3 separate regions of the Homo sapiens genome follow, and regions 2 and 3 are each linked to region 1. The links come from fine-mapping of genetic effects on gene expression. A gene starts in region 1. Each other region holds a variant in brackets. All regions are shown on one strand. Distances are from middle to middle.

The links.
Region 2: its variant is fine-mapped to the expression of FBXO17 in nucleus accumbens (GTEx, PIP 0.92).
Region 3: its variant is fine-mapped to the expression of FBXO17 in lung (TOPMed, PIP 0.96).

What each region holds. Positions count from the first base shown.
Region 1 is chr19:38,972,059-38,978,634 of GRCh38, forward strand. FBXO17 (F-box protein 17) reads right to left here and starts at 3,684. Exons shown (of 6, transcript NM_024907.7): 1 at 3,528-3,684. RefSeq lists enhancers at 5,631-5,680, 6,131-6,230.
Region 2 is chr19:38,935,911-38,942,486 of GRCh38, forward strand. FBXO17 (F-box protein 17) reads right to left here. Exons shown (of 6, transcript NM_024907.7): 6 at 5,491-6,576. LOC124904713 (a long non-coding RNA gene) reads right to left here and starts at 5,488. Exons shown (of 2, transcript XR_007067253.1): 1 at 5,304-5,488; 2 at 1-942. The variant A/G (reference allele first, on the strand shown) is at 3,777.
Region 3 is chr19:38,943,804-38,948,803 of GRCh38, forward strand. FBXO17 (F-box protein 17) reads right to left here. Exons shown (of 6, transcript NM_024907.7): 3 at 4,764-4,875; 4 at 2,669-2,764; 5 at 1,166-1,301. Among named protein-coding and RNA genes, the nearest start is that of MRPS12, 15 kb to the left of the region's middle. The variant G/A (reference allele first, on the strand shown) is at 3,065.

The DNA of each region.
Region 1 (6,576 bases):
GCAACAGAGCCATGTCAAAAGACAAAATTACAACAAATTTAGTTATAGATCTAATGGGCTTTTATTCAAGATTCTTGAATGGGGCAGCCTCCATTTTACAAAACAGACTGAGACCCCCACTGGGTAGTAAGAGAATGGTGGGTTTTATAAGCTGGGACCAAGGGAAAAGAATGATAGAAAAAAACAAACAAAAAAACTAGGCCGGGAGCAGTGGCTCACTCACACCTGTTATCCCCAGCACTCTGGGAGGCCAAGGCAGGTGGATCACCTGAGGTCAGGAGTTCGAGACCAGCCTGGCCAACATGATGAAACCCCATCTCTACTAAAAATATAAAAATTAGCTGGGTGTGGTGGCACGCACCTGTAATCCCAGCTACTCAGGAAGCTGAGGCAGGAGAATTGCTTGAACCCAGGAGGTCAAGGTTGCAGTGAGCTGTGATTGTGCCACTGCACTGCAGCCTGGGCGACAGAGTGAGACCCCATCTCAAAGAAAAAAAAAAAAAACCTGCTGGGATTTGAATCTTGGTATATTGGACTCCATAGTTTGTGCTACTGTATACATGTCTTCTGTCTCTTTCTTTGTTTCAAAATAATCTTACTTTATTTTCTCCCAATTTTTACTATGAAATTTCATTCTATAGACAAGTTGAAAGAGTAATCAAATGAACATCACTATCTGCTCCATATTTTGCCATATTTGCACTCTCTCTTTTCTTTTTGGACAGAGTTTTGCTCTTGTCGCCCAGGCTGGGGTGCAATGGCGCGATCTCGGCTCACTGCAAGCTCCACCTCCTGGGTTCAAGCTATTCTCCCGCCTCAGCCTCCTAAGTAGCTGGGATTACAGGTACCCGCCATCATGCCCTGCTAAATTTTTATTTTTGTCGAGACAGGGTTTCAACATGTTGGCCAGGCTGGTCTCGAACTCCTCAGCCTCCCAAAGTGCTGGCATTACAGGCATAAGTCACCGGCCTGGCGGCCTTGATGAACTACTCTTCAGTACTTCCTAATGAATCTCCTAAGATTAAGGGCAACCTGGCCAGGCGTGGTGGCTCACGCTTGTAATTCCAGCACTTTGGGAGGCCAACGCGGGTGGATCACGAGGTCAGGAGTTCGAGACCAGGCTGACCAACACGGTGAAACCCCATCTCTACTAAAAATACAAAAAAATTAGCCAGGCGTGGTGGCACATGCTTGTAATCCCAGCTACTAGGGAGGCTGAGGCAGGAGAATCGCTTGAACCCAGGAGGTGGAGGTTGCAGTGAGCCGAGATTGTGCCACTGCACTCCAGCCTGGGCGACAGAGAGAGATTCTGCCTCAAAAATTCATTCTGCCATCAATACCCACTCCGTGAACAATTTCCCCTGCTGTCTCTAGCAGGTCTTCTGTGGCTGTTTCCTCCTAACAAGATCCCCGTGGGGGCTCAAACACCAGTGGGGGTGGCAGGTCTCACTCATCTCTTTTAATCTAAAACACTTCGTTTTCCATTCTTCTAAAAGAGATTACATACTTTTATTATAGAAAAAATTAAGGCAAACTTTTCTATTTGATTTCTAAGCCATATGTAGAATTTGATTAGAATTGAAGAAATTAATATTTACATAAATACAAAAATGTTATTTTAAAAATATATCTTTTTGTTTGGGCGCCGGTGGCTCACACCTGTAATCCCAGGACTTTTGATGGCCAAGACGAGCAGATGGCTTGAGCCCAGGAGTTCGAGACCAGCCTGGGTAACACGGCAAAACCCCGTATCCACAAAAAATAAAAAAATTAGTGGGGTTTGGTGGGGGGGCGTGCACCTGTAGCCCTAGTTACTCAGGAGGCTGAGGTGGGAGGATCTCTTGAGCCCAGGAGGTTGAGGCTGCAGTGAGCCATGATTACGACACTGTACTCCAGCCTGGGCAACACAGTTTTGATTTGATTTGATTTGATTTGAGACAGGGTCTCAAATATATATGTGTATATATATATATACATATATATATATACACATATATATACACACATATATATATGTACATATATAGTTTTTTTTTTTTTGAGACAGAGTCTTGCTCTTGTCACCCAGGCTGGAGTGCAATGGCACAATCTTGGCTCACTGCAACCTCCACCTCCAGGGTTCAAGCGATTCTCCTTCCTCAGCCTCCTGAGTAGCTGGGATTACAGGCGCCTACCACCACGCCTGGCTAATTTTTGTACTTTTAGTAGAGACGGGGTTCATGTTGGCCAGGCTGGTCTTGAATTCCTGACCTCAGGTGATCCGCCCGCCTCGGCCTCCCAGAGTGCTGGGATTACAAGCGTGAGCCACCGCGCACGCCCGGCCTAAAAATATATTTTTTAAAAAGAAGCTCCTTAGCCAAGCCTTACAAAAAGAGAGTCAACAGATACTAGGTATATTTAATGGAACAATAAATACAAGTTAAAAAAATTATTTTATGTTAGAAAAGTAGCCAATAGAGAAGCCGAAAGTAATGTCCTGACTATACAGGGAGGTGATTATATAGGGAGGAGGAAAACCACGGAGATGATCAAAGTTGTCTCCTATTTTTAGCAAGGGATCCATGGACGCGTTGTCTAAAAGTTGATGAAATAAGAAATAACAATCCAAAAATATGCTGTAAAGATTTGGAAATAGATACCAGAGGAATAAAAAGTGGAAAAAGTTAAAAACGAGGCACCAGCGATCACGAGTTACTTCTTGCCATTTTTGAAAAGTAATGTAGTTAACAAAAAAATGTATTTGGCCGACAGGGGTTGGGGGCGGTGGTGAGGGAGAGGTTGTTGTTTAAAGGCGTGTTGTTTTCCATGCAAAGCTCTGTCCTGTCCTACGTGTCTGAGTGTCGTGTATTACTGGAACATTTTTAAAGAAGTATTATTTATTTTACAACTAGACTCCCATAATATTTGTCTTTCAAAATATGGAGTAAATAGACGCTGTCTAAAGTTGAAGAGGCAGTATACAGAGCTTTCGAACATATCACTGAACATTGCAAAAGTAACTTGGCAGAACAAAATTTAAATTGAGGGTTGGGGCCGCAGCGAAACACATAATGTGCCCAAGTTGCTAAATCGAGAAACCGCCCTCCAAGGCTTCTGATTCACAGATTCTGCGAAGGGACTGACGGCCAGAAGACAGAAAATCCAGCAACGGTAAAAAGCGGCCTGGCCTTCCCCGGGCTGTTGCGCCCACGTGTTGGTTTGCAGCGTTTGGCAGGGGTTTTGGATGGTGGCCTCCGCGGACGAGCGCAGGGATGGAGAGGCCTGGGCGTTCGAACACCCACGTTCAAAGCAAAGCCCTTCCAGATTTAGGGCTTTCTAACGTGCATTTGTATAACTTTGGGTTTAAAGGAGCCTCAGGCCGAGGGAGGGCCCGGGAAAGCGACGCTGCGGGTTATGGGACTCCCAGGGACCCGCCCCTCCGGGCAGGGCCTGGCGCGGGAATCCTTCCCGGGGCGCCCCAGCTGTGGGCGAGAACGGGACTGACGCTTGGGTCCCGACCTGGGTCCCCTACCTGTCCCGGCGCTCACCTGGCGGGCTGCTCGGAGGCGGCAGCGGCGGGCTAAGCTTCCCTTTCCCACTTTGTTCTGGGAGGCAGTCGAGGGGCTCCCCGTGATCGGCGTGGCCCAGGGGGCCCCGGGACCGGCGGTCTGGGCGGTCGGTCCTCTCCCGGGGCGTGGCGGCTGCAGCCCGGCGCCGGGGGCGGCGACTCTGAGATCCAGCGGGCGGGGGCGGGAGGCCGCCCCTCCTCCGGCTGCGGGGCCCAGCGGGAGCGAGGGCGGGCGGGCGGGGGAGCTTGGAGGGCTGCGTGCAGCGAGGGGGAGGCCCAGTTGCCGCGAGGCCAGCGGGGAGCGGGGCCAGCCCCGCGCCCCTAGGATCCGGGGCCCACCCCTGGGAGAGCCACCTCCTCTGGGTGTGCGAGTTCCACATCCCCAAGACGCCCCCGCGGGGGGACTGGTCCTAGCTCCCCACCCCCACCCAAATTCCGTTTCCTTCTGGTCCTGGCCTCCTGCTTGCGGCCGTCTCCACCCCTCACATCCATGGGATCCTGCACAGGTCCACGGTTGGTAAACCGCTTAGCTGTGAGCCCGACCCAGGGCCTGATTCGAAACACTTGGATCAAAGTCCCTGGCCACAGGGATTTTCTTGTATTTACGTTGCTTCCCAGGGCCAGATTCTCAGAAGCCCGGGGCTGATCTTAAATTAAATCCCTTCACCACACGCACTCTCTGTGGCAATGACAAACCTGTACCCTTCCACCTTAGGACTCCCCTGTCCTCCCCATCCCCCCAGCTATAGACAACTGAATTAATCCGGAGGTTCAGTTTCGGTCAGGCTGGGGCCGCGACCCATTTTCTCCCTTTACCTCTGCCCTTGGGTCTTTGCAGTCCCTTCTGATGGCCCTAGATTGCACCAGGGACCTCAAGGTGACTGATCTCAGACACCCCAGAGCTAGTTTTCTGGAAGCCAGGCCTCCCCCACGCTGGTAAATCATTCTCCAGGCCCACTGGCTCATATCTGCCACTGTGCTAAATGCTTTGTATGCATGACCTCCTCATGGACGCCTCTCCCGAGAAACTGAAGTCCAGAGATACCTGGTCTGTTGCACGTAGTCCAAGTCGCTAGCTTGGAGGGGTCACACAGCCAGAGAGCCTGGATTCCCTAAAGCCCCTTCCCCTAGAAACCTCAGCCAGGCCCCACAGCGCCATCGTGAGGACGGCGTGAGACTGCGTGTGCAGCGCGGAGCACAGTGCTGGACTCAGAGCCAACGCTAATTTGACTACTATTACATTATTTGTAACAACCGCCTTTGAAAGCATTTTCTGCTGTGGGTTGTAAAATTACTGTATTATTGGTAGAGTTTTTAGCACAGATCCACACGCAGTTCCTTATGTGAAAGGCGTAGGCCTAGGTTTGTTTTGCATTCCGGATTTTGGGGGGTTTATTTATTTTATTTTAGTTTTTTGAGACGGAGTCTCGCTCTGTTGCCCAGGCTGGAGTGCAGTGGCTAGATCTTGGCTCACTGCAAGCTCCACCTCCCGGGCTCAAGCAATTCTTGTGCCTCAGCCTCCCGAGTAGCTGGGATTACAGGAACGCGCCACCACGCCTGGCTAATTTTTGTATTTTTAGTAGAGAGGGGGTTTGGCCATGTTGGCCAGGCTGGTCTCGAACTCTTGACCTCAGGTGATCTGCCTGTCTTGGCCTCCCAAAGTACTGGGATTACAAGCGTGAGCTACCACGCCTGGCCGTAAGTAGCCATTTCTTCATGCTGCTCAATTCTCTGACATCCAGGGGCTTGCATATGTAGGGACAAGAATACTAACTAATCTTTGTTCTTTGATAAAACATTAAACAGTTGTTCCTCTAAGTCTTCCTCGAAACCAGATTTCCCTAATCATTTCAACATTCCTTCCAAAAGCCATCGCTTAAAGCCTTCCCAAATCTAATGTCAGATGTTTGCGATTGTTGTAAATACCTTAACAAATAGACAAAGCAATTGTGTGTTATTATAATGATTACAAAGCTAATGCATACTTGTGCTGACACGTGTCACCAGTGTGCTGATACCCATGGACTTGAGCTTGTTTCTTTATTGTTATTATTACAAAAAGTGGAATTGTTTATTTTTCATTTATTGATTTATTTTTGAGTCAGCGTCTGGCTCTGTTACCCAGGCTGGAGTGCAGTGGCATGATCACAGCTCACTGCAGCCTTGATCTCCTGGGCTCAAGTGATCCTCCCACCTCAGCCCCTCAAGTAGCTGGGACTACAGGGGCACGCCACCATGCCCGGCTAATCTTTGTATTTTTTGTAGAGATGAGGTTTCGCCATGCTGCCCAGGCTGGTCTCGAACTCATTAGCTCAACAATCCGCCTGCCTTGGCCTCCCAAAATGCTGGGATTACAGGCATAAGCCACTGCATCTGGCCTTGTTTCTTTATTATTGGTATTCTAGTTTTTAGACTCCTTTCCTGCAGGGAGTGTGATTTGACTCACCCAATATAAGGAGCCCTGGTAACCGCCTCAGACCTGCTGAGGTTTCGGCTTTAGGTCAGAGCCAGTTTCAGGAAGGCTGATGATTCAGGACCGGTGGAGAGGCCTGGGGAACCTCTAGCAGGGCAGCCCACTGAATGCGGTTGTCACTCAGAGCCTGTCCATGTGCTTGGATCTGAACAGGAAGAGAGGTTTTATTTATGGTCTTGGTCGTGCTTTCCCTCGGAGTCACATTTGTTCCTGGTGTCTCCTCACATGGTGCAGGCTGATGTGCCTACTTTGCAGCTCTTTCTGCTGAGCAAGGCCTGTTTCTACCCAATTAAATCTAAAGCCTTCTATCACAATAAAACCTCAACTGTCATTCCCATCAACCAAGAAGAACTGAACTAGGAGGCCCTGACATTTGCCAATCTGATGTGTTATCAAATGTTTACATTGGCCGGGCACGGTGGCTCATGTCTGTAATCCTAGTGCTTTGGGAGGCAGCAGGATCACTTGAGACCAGGAGTTCAAGACCAGCCTGTGCAACATAGTGAGACCCCCATCTCTACAAAAAATTTAAAAATTACCTGGCTATGATGGTGTG
Region 2 (6,576 bases), 36 kb before region 1:
TCACGTGTGCCTGGGATACTTTAAATATTTGTTCTTTCAATTTTGCAATATCCAAATACAAGTTTGTAGAGTGGCCTTCTAGATGCTTTTTTATTCTTTCCCAAATTTTGATTTTATTAAGAGCTATTAACAGTTTCCACAAATGCTTATGTTTAGCTCCTAGAGCAGGCCATATCATTTGAGGCTGAGGTGCCACTATACTGCCATGGTTCCAGATAATAGGAACTCTTGCTGTATTTCTTACCATTTCTATCATCTGACCATTTTGTTCAGATGAGCTGATCACAGTGTGGCCATGGCATGCAGACTGAGAGGTGCAGTTCAAGCTAAACATCCCCATAGGTGACCAATTAATAATGATTCCATAGGAATTGTTGTGCAGCACCTCTGCCTGTTCTGCAAAGCAATCTTCCTAAACAAGTACGTTCATTTTTGCTAACTGGGTCCAATCCTGTTTACAAATATGTTTTTGAGGGCAGTATGCCTCAATTATAGGAGCAGATTTATTATGAGATCAGAAAGCTTGTATAACTGTGTCATAGAGTGATTACATCCAGGCATTATTGCCAGCCAAGATTGATAAATATGCCCAATAAGTATAATTGTCCTCTGTGTCAGCCCTTATTGAAGGAATACTCATGGCAGTGGTGATCATCGCTATCATAGCTACCATTAAATTACTCATTGCGACTGGTTGTCCCACTTTCCTCAGGTTTTCTTCCACCATCTGTGACAGCTTCTTGATCTGTCTCCAGGTGGGTGGCTGTGTTTGACAGGTGTTGCTCGTGACAGTTGGGGTCTTCCTCAGCGTCAGTCTCGACATGGCTGCAACCGGGGGTGGGGGGGGTCCTCAGTTTCCTCCCGGAATCTCTTCCTCAGCATCTGGCTCATGATAAGGTTTCAGGTGTCTTGATGGTATCCAAATCGGCTGTTGAGTCAGTCCTGGAGAAACACAAGCATAACCTCTACCCCAAGTTATTATTTTACCTATTTCCTAACTTTTTGTTATTGGATCTCTCCACCAAACTAGTTGTTCTGCTTCTGTCTTTGCAGCTGGTTTCTGTAGATGCTGTTCAGCTACTGATAGGATCTGGCCTTTAGGCAGGCTCAAAAAATTTAAAGTTAACAATGCTAGATTCAGTTGCATATGGGGTGTCCCGTAGTCCTTGTTTTCCCCCCTTTTTTTTGCTTTTGCAACTGCTGTTTCAGGGAGAGATTCATTCTTTCCACTATGGCTTGTCCTTGAGAATTATATGGGATACCAGTAATGTGTTTAATATTCCGTATAGAGAAAAATGTAGCTAGAGCTCGGCTAGTGTAGCCTGGGGCTTTATCTGTTTTAATAGAAGCTGGAATGCCCATCACTGCAAAACACTGCAAAAGGTGACGCCTGGAAGAGGTGTATGAGCCCTAATGTGAGTGATGTAAAAAGGGTGCATTCTACTCCTAACTGCTGTTTGCAGTTGGGTAAATAAAATCATCAGTTGTTCATCTGCAGGAAATTGTAACTGAGCATTTTCAGTTAATTGTGTGGAATGAATCACGTATGAAGAGTCAGAAATCACATTAATAGGCATATGAAAAGCAGTCACTACCTCAATTACAGCTACAGGCTCCACTTTTTGAGCTGAAGTATAGGGCATCTGAAAAACTTTACTTTTTGAGCCAGAATAAGAAGCTTTACCATTACTAGACCCATCTGTAAAAACATTTTCAGCACCTTCAATTGGTTTAAATTTAGTTATTTTAGGGAGAATCCAATTAGTTAATTTCAAAAATTAAAACAGTTTTGTTTAGGAAAATGGTTATCGAGAATACCCACAAAGTCAGCTTAATTGGTTTGCCAAGTAAGACTATTTATAAAAGCTTGCTGTATTTGTGCCTTTGTGAGAGGGATAATAATTTTTCCAGGATCATATCCATGTAATTTAACAATCCGAGTTCTCCCATTTCCTATCATAGTAGCAATTTGATCCAAATAAGGAGTTAGAGTCCGTGAATTAGTATGTGGAAGAAAAAGCCACTCTACAAGATCTCACTCTTGAACAATAACACCAGTAGGTGAATGCTGAGTTGGAAAAATTAGCAAATCTAGAGTCTTCTCTGGATCTAATCTATTTATTTGAGCTTTATGGACTTGCTTTTCGATTAGCCGCAGCTCTGCCTCAGCTTCTCTTGTTAATTACCGAGGGCTTGTGAGACCAGGATCTCCTCTAAGGATAGAAAATAGATTACTCATGGCATAGGTAGGAATGCCTAGAGCAGGTCGTATCCAATTAATGTCCCCTAGTAATTTTTGAAAGTCCTTTAATGTTTTCAATTGATTCCTATGTATGGTTGCTTTCTGTGGCACAATGGTAGTGTCATTTACTAAGGTCCCCAAGTAGGAGTAAGGAGTAGTAGTCTGAATTTTGTCAGGAGCTATAATTAAACCAGCGCAAGAAATCGAATTTTGTAAGTGATCATAACATTGGAGTAATACTTCTCGAGTGGGGGCAGCACAAAGTATATCATCCATATAATGAATAATGTAACACTGTGAAAACTTTTAACGAGTAGGTTCAATTGCTTGCCCTACATAAGTCTGGCAAATTGTTGGGCTGTTTAACATGCCTTGTGGCAATACTTTCCAGTGAAAACGCTTAGCAGGCTGCAGGTTGTTTACTGCAGGAATTGTAAATGCAAACTGTTCACAGTCTTGCTCAGCTAAGGGGATAGTAAAGAAACAGTCTTTTAAATCTATGACTATTAAAGGCCAATTTTTTGGAATCATAGCAGGAGAAGGCAATCCTGGCTGTAATGTACCCATGGGTTGTATAACTGAATTAATGGCTCTTAAGTCAGTTAACATTCTCCGTTTATCTGATTCTTTTCTTAATTACGAAAACTGGAGAATTCCAAGGGGAAAATGTTGGAGCTATGTGTCCGTTTTCTAATTATTCAGTAACTAATTCCTCTAAAGCCTTCAGTTTCTCTTTACTTAGCGGCCATTGTTCTATCCAAATTGGCTTATCTGTTAACCATTTTAAAGGTATAGGTTCTGGAGGCTTAACAATGGCCGCCATCAAAAATAATATCCTAAACCTTGGCGGAAACTTGTATTTCTGCTTGAAGCGGTTCCTTCAAACCTTGTAAATTTTTTCCTAGTCCCATACTAGGGACATACCCCATTTCATGCATCATATGTTGACTTTGAGGGCTATATAATTGTTCTGGAATTAGAACTTGTGCTCCGCATTGTTGTAATAAATATCTTCCCCATAAATTTATAGGTACAGAAGTTTTGGTTGAATAGTCCCAGGTTGTCCATCAGGCCCTTCACAATGCAAAATATAACTACTTTGATATACTTCAGGGGCTTTACCAACTCCAACTATGTTAAACTGAGCAGGTTGAATTGGCCATGTGGACGGCCATTGCTATAGAGAAATGAAATGTCCGCTCCTGTATCTACCAAACCTTTATATTTCTTTCCCTGAATAGTTATTTCACAGGTAGGACGTTTATCAGTAATTTGATTCACCCAATAAGCTGTTTTGCCTTGTTTATTTGTGCTTCCAAATCCTCCTGTTCGTTTAATTTCACTTTTTCCCATTCCCACATATGGCACATTCAGGAGCTGTGCTATGCGCTCTCCTGGCTCTGCTTTCCAGGGAACAGAAGTAGAAAAAACAATTTGAATTTCTCCATTGTAATCTGAATCAGTGACTCCTGTTTGTACTTGTACCCCCTTTAAATTTAAACTACACCTCCCTAGAAGTAATCCTATTGTCCCC[A/G]CTGGCAAGGGTCCACAGACCCCTGTTGGAACTTTTTGCGGGGGTTCCTCAGGCAGAAGGCTCACAGCTTTTGTGCAGCATAAATCTACTGTGGCATTACTGGCTGTGGCAGGGGACAGACATTGTACAGGGGTGAAGGAGTGGCCTGAGGCGGAAATGCCCCTGGTTTCGAACAGGGCCCGGGATGGGCCCCTCATGGCATTTCCCGAAATCGGGTTCCCATCTTTATCAAACTTAGAGTGACACTGATTAGCCCAATGTTTTCCTTTTTTTACATTTTGGACATATATCAGGCTCAGCAGTTTTCTTTTTTCCCCTGTCTGCCGGCCTGACTTGCTGATTTTTTTCTGCATTCTTTTTTAGTGTGCCCATGCTTCCCACAGTTGAAACAAGCTCCAGGAAATGGAGTATTTCCTTTATCCACTTTCAGTCCTGCCATTGCCTGTGCCAACAAAGTAGCTTTATGCAGATTACCTCTGATACCATCTCAGGCCTTGATATAATCAACTAAATGTGCTTTCCCTCTAATAGGTCACAGAGCAGCCTGGCAATTGAGATTAGCATTGTCAAAAGCTAATAACCGCAACACTATATCCTGAGCAGCCGAATCTGCAATCACCTTTTTAAGATACTCCTGTAACCGAGCTATAAAATCTGTGTACGGTTCTTTTGGTCCCTGTTTTACAGCACCAAAGGAAGGGTACTGTTCTCCACCTGAAGTGATTTTTTCCCAAGCTCTGATGCACACTCCTCTAAGCTGCTCTATGGCATCATCCTGCATGACCACCTGTGCATCTAAACCAGCCCAGCCGCCGACCCCCAAAAGTTGGTGTGCAGTTATATCAATTTGAGGTTGGGCCTGGGTGTTGCGAGGAGCCTGAATGGAAGCTTCATCTGCCCACCAAGTTTTAAATTGTAAGAACTGAGCAGGAGTTAGACAAGCTCAAGTAAGAGCGTCCCAGTCAGGAGGAATCATCCGACTGGAAACAGCAACATTCTTTAACAGTCCCGTTACAAAAGGAGAACCTGGTCCATATTGATTAATAGCTTGTTTAAATTCTTTGAGTAATTTAAAAGGAAAAGGCTCAAATGTAGCTGTAATATTTCCCTGTTGATCTGGGGGATGTATTCTAACAGGGAACTGCCAAGCCTCTAAATCACCCTCTCTTCTAGCTTGCTGAATTCCTGCCTGAATGGAACTGAGAGCAGTCGCTTGAGGCACTGCCCAAACAGTCACTGGGGCAACTACTTTTCACCCAGTGTCCTCTGGAAAAGAAAGATCTGGAGGGTCAGGTCACTCTTTTTCTTCACACTAAGGAGGGGATGCAGAAGGGTAGGGATGAACCTCTTCCTCCTTTGCCACTTTAGCTTTAGCTGGCAAACAAACCTGCTCTGTTACCTCTTCCATTACTTCATTACACTCTCCCTGCTCCTCATCAGTGTGAAAAGGTTCCAAGGTGGAATGAACCAGAACCCACACCTGTCCCATTGCTACCCTGATGCTTCCGAGCTCCCCTTCTTACTCACCATGGGGATTGCTTAAGAGTACTCGGGTGTCCTCCAGCTTAGTTCCACGTTCTCCAACCGTCGCTCCAGTGACTCTTCGACCTGGGTTCGAGCCCCCACGTATGGGTGCCACTTGCCGAGACCAGCTCGGTTGTGGAGACCCTAACCCAGCGGTGCTAGAGGAATTAAAGACACATACACAGAAATATAGGGTGTGGAGTGGGAAATCAGGGGTCTCACGGCCTTCAGAGCTGAGAGCCTTGAACAGAGATTTACCCACATATTTATTGACAGCAAGCCAGTGATAAGCATTATTTCTATAGATTATAGATTAACTAAAAACATTTCTTACAGGAAATAAAGGGATGGGCTGAAATAAAGGGATGGGTCTGGCTAGTTATCTGCAGCAGGAACATGTCGTTAAGGCACAGATCACTTATGCTATGGTTTGTGGTTCAGGAACCCCTTTAAGCGGTTTTCCGCCCTGGGTGGGCCAGGTGTTCCTCGCCCTCGTTCCAGTAAACCCACAACCTTCAGGGTGGGGGTCATGGCCATCACAAACATGTCACAGTGCTGCAGATATTTTGTTTATGGCCAGTTTTGGGGCCAGTTTATGGCCAGATTTGGGGGCCTGTTCCCAACACCAGAGATTTCCCCAAACAGCAGATGACTTTGTTAGTCTCAAGGACAGACTGCCTCAGCGGACCTCTGCTCCCTGCCCACGATCATTACCCCCAAAACATGCCGGCAAGTCTCTGCTCCCTGCGTCGGCAGAGGGATTTATAAGCCCTCTCTTATAAATCCTGGTTTAGCCTTTGTTTTGTGACTGAGTCCACCGAGATCCTTGCAGGAGAAGAAAATTTGCAGGCAAATGAACTAAATGTCTCTTCCTGACACTCCCCTTCTGGGGGGCTGAGGAAGCTGTGAACAGCCTGGTTTGTCACACAGCATGATGGCCACCACACTGAAGCAGCAGCAAGCAGATTCATGGAAGGTGTGCTGAGAACCAGCCACCTGGGAGCCCTACTGTCCCTGGGTATCCTCTGGCTTCTGGCTGCAAAGCTGGTCTTTTTTTTTTTTTTTTTCATTGATATAGGGTCTTGCTTTCTCACCCAGGCTGGAGTGGTGGTGAAATCACGGCTCACTGCAGCCTCAACCTCCTGGTCTCAGGCAATCCTCCCACCCAAGCCTCCTGAGTAGCTGGGACTACAGGCGGCACCACCATGCCTGGCTAATTTTTTAAAAATTATTTGTGGAGACGGTTTCACTATGTTGCCCAGGCTGGTCTTGAACT
Region 3 (5,000 bases), 29 kb before region 1:
GGTGTTGAACTCCTGCCCTCAAGTGATCTGTCCGCCTTGACCTCCCAAAGTGCTGAGATTACAGGCATGAGCCACCACACCCGGCCCAAAATTCATTTTTTAAAGTGTACAATTCAGTGGTTTTTAGTTGATTCACGATATTATGCAGCCATCACCACTACCTAATTCCCATCACCCCAGGAAAAAACTCTGCATCCATGAGCTGTCATTTCCAAGACCTCCCTCCCCCAGCCCCTGGCAGTCGCCAATCTTCTTAGTGTACATTTCATATATGTGGAATCATACAGTATTTGTCATTTCATGTCTGGCCTCTTTCAGCATCATGTTTTCAGTTTATCCACGTTGCAGTGTGAATTCATGCTTCATTTCTTTTCCGTGGCTGCATAACTTTGGCTTTTACTGTGAGATGTAGCCACAGGAGCATTACAAGCAGTGAGACTTCTGATCTGACTCATTATTATTATTATTATTATTATTATTTTTAGTTAGCGTCTCAGTCTGTTGCCCTGGCTGGAGTGCAGTGGGACCAACTGGGCTCCAACCATCCTCCCACCTCAGCCTCCTGAGTAGCTGAGACTGCAGGTGCAAGTCACCATGCCCGTCTAATTTTTAATTTCTTTGTAGAGATGGAGGTCTCGCTATATTGCCCAGGCTGGCCTCAAACTCCTGCCCTCAAGCTGTCCTCCCATCTTGGCCTCCTAAAGTGGTGGGATTACAGGTATGAGCCACTGTGCCCAGCCGAAACATTTACTTTGGTAACTGAGGTGTGAGGATCAAGACAGCATAGTCTTGGTGCCAGATTGGGCTTGAGTCCAGCTCTGCACTGGACCAGTCACATAACCTCCCTGTCTGTGCCTCTGTTTCCTCAACTCTAGAATGGAGATAGGATTTTGCTTCACTGCTGCATTTCCAGCACATAGAGTGGTGCCCAGCACACAGTAGGTGCTCAATCAGTGTTTGTTGAACATTAAGGGGTTTTGCTAATGAAATGAATCGATATGTAAGCGTCTTGACACAGGGCTTGGGATGTAAGAAGGGCTCGATACTTCTTAGCTGTTATGATTATAGATATCCAGGAGTGACAGAAGGGAAACCGAGCAGACGAGAGGCTGGGCGTGTGTGCCTTTAGCGGGTCGGGGGGAGCTGGAAGCTAGTCTGGACCCACCTGTCGGCAGCCCCTCTCAGTCCACTGAAGGACCGGGTCAGGTGAGGCTGAGAACTTGACCACTTCCTTTTCATACACATCCAGAAGGCGGACCCGGAGCTGGTAGACGCAGCCGCAGTTCTCTCGAGCGCCCCACCTGCCAGGCAGCAGTCAGCCTCTATGCCCCCGTCACCCAGCCAGCTCTCTGGGTTTCGGGGCGGGAGGCTGAGGGCTGGCTCCATCTTGATGAAGGTCCTGCACATCTGGACCACATTTGGAGACGTCCTGGCCTGGGAACCTCTAGGGGAGGAGCCTTGGTGGTTCTGGGGTGGAACCAGAGCCTGGCGGAGGAGCCTGGGTGGTCCTGGGGAGGAGCCAGAGCCTGGGGGAGGAGCCTGGGTGGTCCTGGGGTGGAGCCAGAGCCTGGGGGAGGAGCCTGGGTGACCCTGGGGTGGAGCCAGAGCCTGGGGGAGGGTCCTGGGTGGTCCTGGGGGAGGAGTCTGGGTGGTCCTGGAGTGGAGCCAGAGCCTGGGGGAGGGGCCTGGGTGGTCCTGGGGGAGGAATCTGGGTGGTCCTGGGGTGGAGCCAGAGCCTCGGGGAGGGGCCTGGGTGGTCCTGGGGGAGGAGTCTGGGTGGTCCTGGGGTGGAGCCAGAGCAGGGGAGGAGCCTGGGTGGTCCTGGGGGAGGAGCCTGGGTGGTCCTGGGGTGGAACCAGAGCCTGGGGGAGGGGCCTGGGTGGTCCTGGGGGAGGAGCCTGGGTGGTCCTGGGGTGGAACCAGAACCTGGAGGAGAAGCCTGGGTGACCCTGGGGTGGAGCCAGAGCCTGGGGGAGGAGTCTGGGTGGTCCTGGGGTGGAGCCAGAGCAGGGGAGGAGCCTGGGTGGTCCTGGGGGAGGAGCCTGGGTGGTCCTGCGGTTGATTCTGGAGGCTTTTGGGTAGGTAGTTGGGGGACGGGAAAGGATGCTCTGGGGAAGAACCACAATGCAGGGCAGGTGCCTGATGACTTCAGGGAAGAGCCAGAGCCCCAGGGAAGAGACCAGATTTTCTATGGAAGAGCCACAGCCTGAAGGAGGAGCTGGAATGCTTTGGGGCAGAACCTGGGTGTTTTGGGAAGAAGGCATTCATCCTAAGCCTGTAGGCTCTGAAGCCAGTCCTGTCCCAACTATGCTCCCTGAGCCTCAGCTCACAGGGCACCATGCTCCCACCCCTTCAGAGACCCTGGGCATCCACAAGGTGGTCAGGGGAGGTGTCTCGTTTCAGAGGGGTATCAAGCCAGTCAGTGGCCCCCTGTGGACCACCCCAGCCTGCTGGGATGAGGGTGGGCAGGAGTGCAGAGTGGGGGCTCTGGCTTCTCCAAAGCTCTACCTTCCCCGGCTCTGCATCACTTCCCCTCTCAGCCTCATCACAAAGGGTGCACAGTGACAGCCGCTACCCGTGGGGTTGATGGGGCGGGAAATGAGCCCCTGTTGCAGAGCCGCTGCCAAGCCTGCTGCTGCTCTGGGGCAGGGTGCCGCTCCTCACTCACCAGTCAGCCACACAGATCTCAATCTGGGCGCTGTCCAGCAGCTCCTGCCACACCCCTTCCATCACCAGGTCCACAAGCTGCCTCTTGGAGCACCATCTGGGAAGGAGAGATGGCAGGGGGCAGGGCAAACAGTCCTGGCATTCAAGTCACAGTCAGAAGCCACCTCCTCCAAGAAGTCTCCCTTGATAACCCTCTCTAAAGCAGCCCTCAGGGTTTGCTCTAGCAGACCTGAAGATGCATGATGGGCTATACATCTCTCCTTGGCCTCTTGGAGTCCCTTTGCCATTCTCCACCCTGCTGCGGGCTCCAGGCAGCTGACCTCTATGAAAGCCTGACCCTCATCTTTGTGGGACAGGACATGACTACAAATGAAGGCCACATACTAGACATGTGAGC[G/A]GGGAGCTCTGTGGCCTCCTAAAGTGTGAGGGCCCCGGGTCTAAAGCTGGACAGCCTTGTCTCTGTCACCCATTGCTTCCTGTTGGATCAGCCAATGGGATGCTCCGGCAGGGGATGGAAGTGAAAGAGGTGACTAAAATCAGGGTATTTATCCTCTTAGGTCCTTCTCAAGGGACTGCCTTGTCCCCCAAGGAAAAAGCAAATCTCCATGGCACTCTCTCCTCATTTTCCAGTAACTGTTTCCTCCCCTCACCTCTAGCAGTCTAGGGGTGGTAACGTTCCTTTCCTAACTGTTACTAGCTCAGGGGCTCCTGCCTACAACTTTGTAAACAGTCCTTCTCCTCAAACTAGAATGTGCCATAATAACATAAATTGTGCAGTATTGGTGGAAGGATGGGTAAGTTGAGCAATGGAATAGAACAAAGTGCCAGGAACCGGCTGAGCGCGGTGGCTTAGACCTGTAATCCCAGCACTTTGAGAGCCCGAGGCAGGCGGATCACCGGAGGTCGGGAGTTAGAGACGAGCCTGGTCAATATGGTGAAACCTCTTCTCTACAAAAAATACAAAAATTAGCCAGGCATGGTGGCGCACCTCTGTAGTCACAGCTATTCGGGAGGCTGAGGCAGGAGAATCATTGGAACCCAGGGAGGCAGAGGCTGCAGTGAGCCAAGATTGCGCCACTGCACTCTAGACTGGGCAACAAAATGAGACTCTATCTCAAAAAACAAAAACAAAAACAAAAAAAACAGAGTGCCAGGGACAGACGTAGGTATACACAGAAACTTCATAAACTGTAGAGGTGGCACCATCATTCCATGGAGAACAGATTCTCATTTTTTCTTTTCTTTTGAGTCAAGGTCTTATTCTGTTGCCAGGCTGGAGTGCAGTGGCATGATCCTAGGCTCACTGCAACCTCAAACTCCTGGGCTCAAGAGATCCTCCCACTTCGGCCTCCCAAAGTGCTGGGATTACAGCTATGAGCCACCGTGCCCGGCCTTCAGTTTCCTGTTATAAAGTGGGGGCAATAATAGTATCTATGTCACAGGGTTGTTGCCAGAATTATATGTAAAGTGTCTAGTATAGAGTAACTCCTTGTGGAGGCAAAAGCGACTCCATCTTGGGTGCTAATCTGCCATGTTCCCTTTTTTTTTTTTTTTGAGACAGAGTCTCATTCTGTCGCCCAGGCTGGAGTGCAGTGGTGCAATCTCGGCTCACTGCAACATTTGCCTCCTGGGTTCAAGCGATTCTCCTGCCTCAGCCTCCACGTCCAGCTAATTTTTGTCTTTTTAGTAGAGACGGGGTTTCCCCCTGTTGGCCAGGCTGGTCTCGCACTCCTGACCTAAAGTGATCTGCCCACCTCGGGCTCTCAAAGTGCTGGGATTACAGGCGAGAGCCACCGTGCCCGGCCCAAAACCCTGTCTTTAGATCAAAGCTGTCTTGCTGTTGTCTCACAAACTGCAGGCGATGATGCACAGAGCATTGCTGCCTGTGGTTGCTAACCTTCCTGATCTTTCCTTGTATCCCTGGCATATGAAACAGTACCCTCAACAAGTATTTGTTGATTGATGGAATGAATCAATGAATAAATAAATGGGGGAAGGAGAGGGTGAAGGTGACGATGAGGACAGTGTGGGGGGTAGGGTCCCTTTCTTTGGGGCCTTTGCCCCAGGGATCGGGGCCTCTCACTTGGGCCACTCACTCGAAAGAGGTCACGAAGCAGGTCTGCGAAGGAGCCCCAGGCACCGGTGTTAGGTTCTTTTCTATGGCCCAGCCGTTCCCGCCATGCTCCACCTCCCAGCCTCTGAAGCCCTCTGTGGGAAAACAAGAGTTGAACATATGGTTCACCTGCCAGCCTGCCCAGAAGAGACCCCGCAACCAGCCAGCTTGTGCTGTCCACCAGCCTCTCCCTCTTGTGCTCCAATCCTCCCTGGTTTCT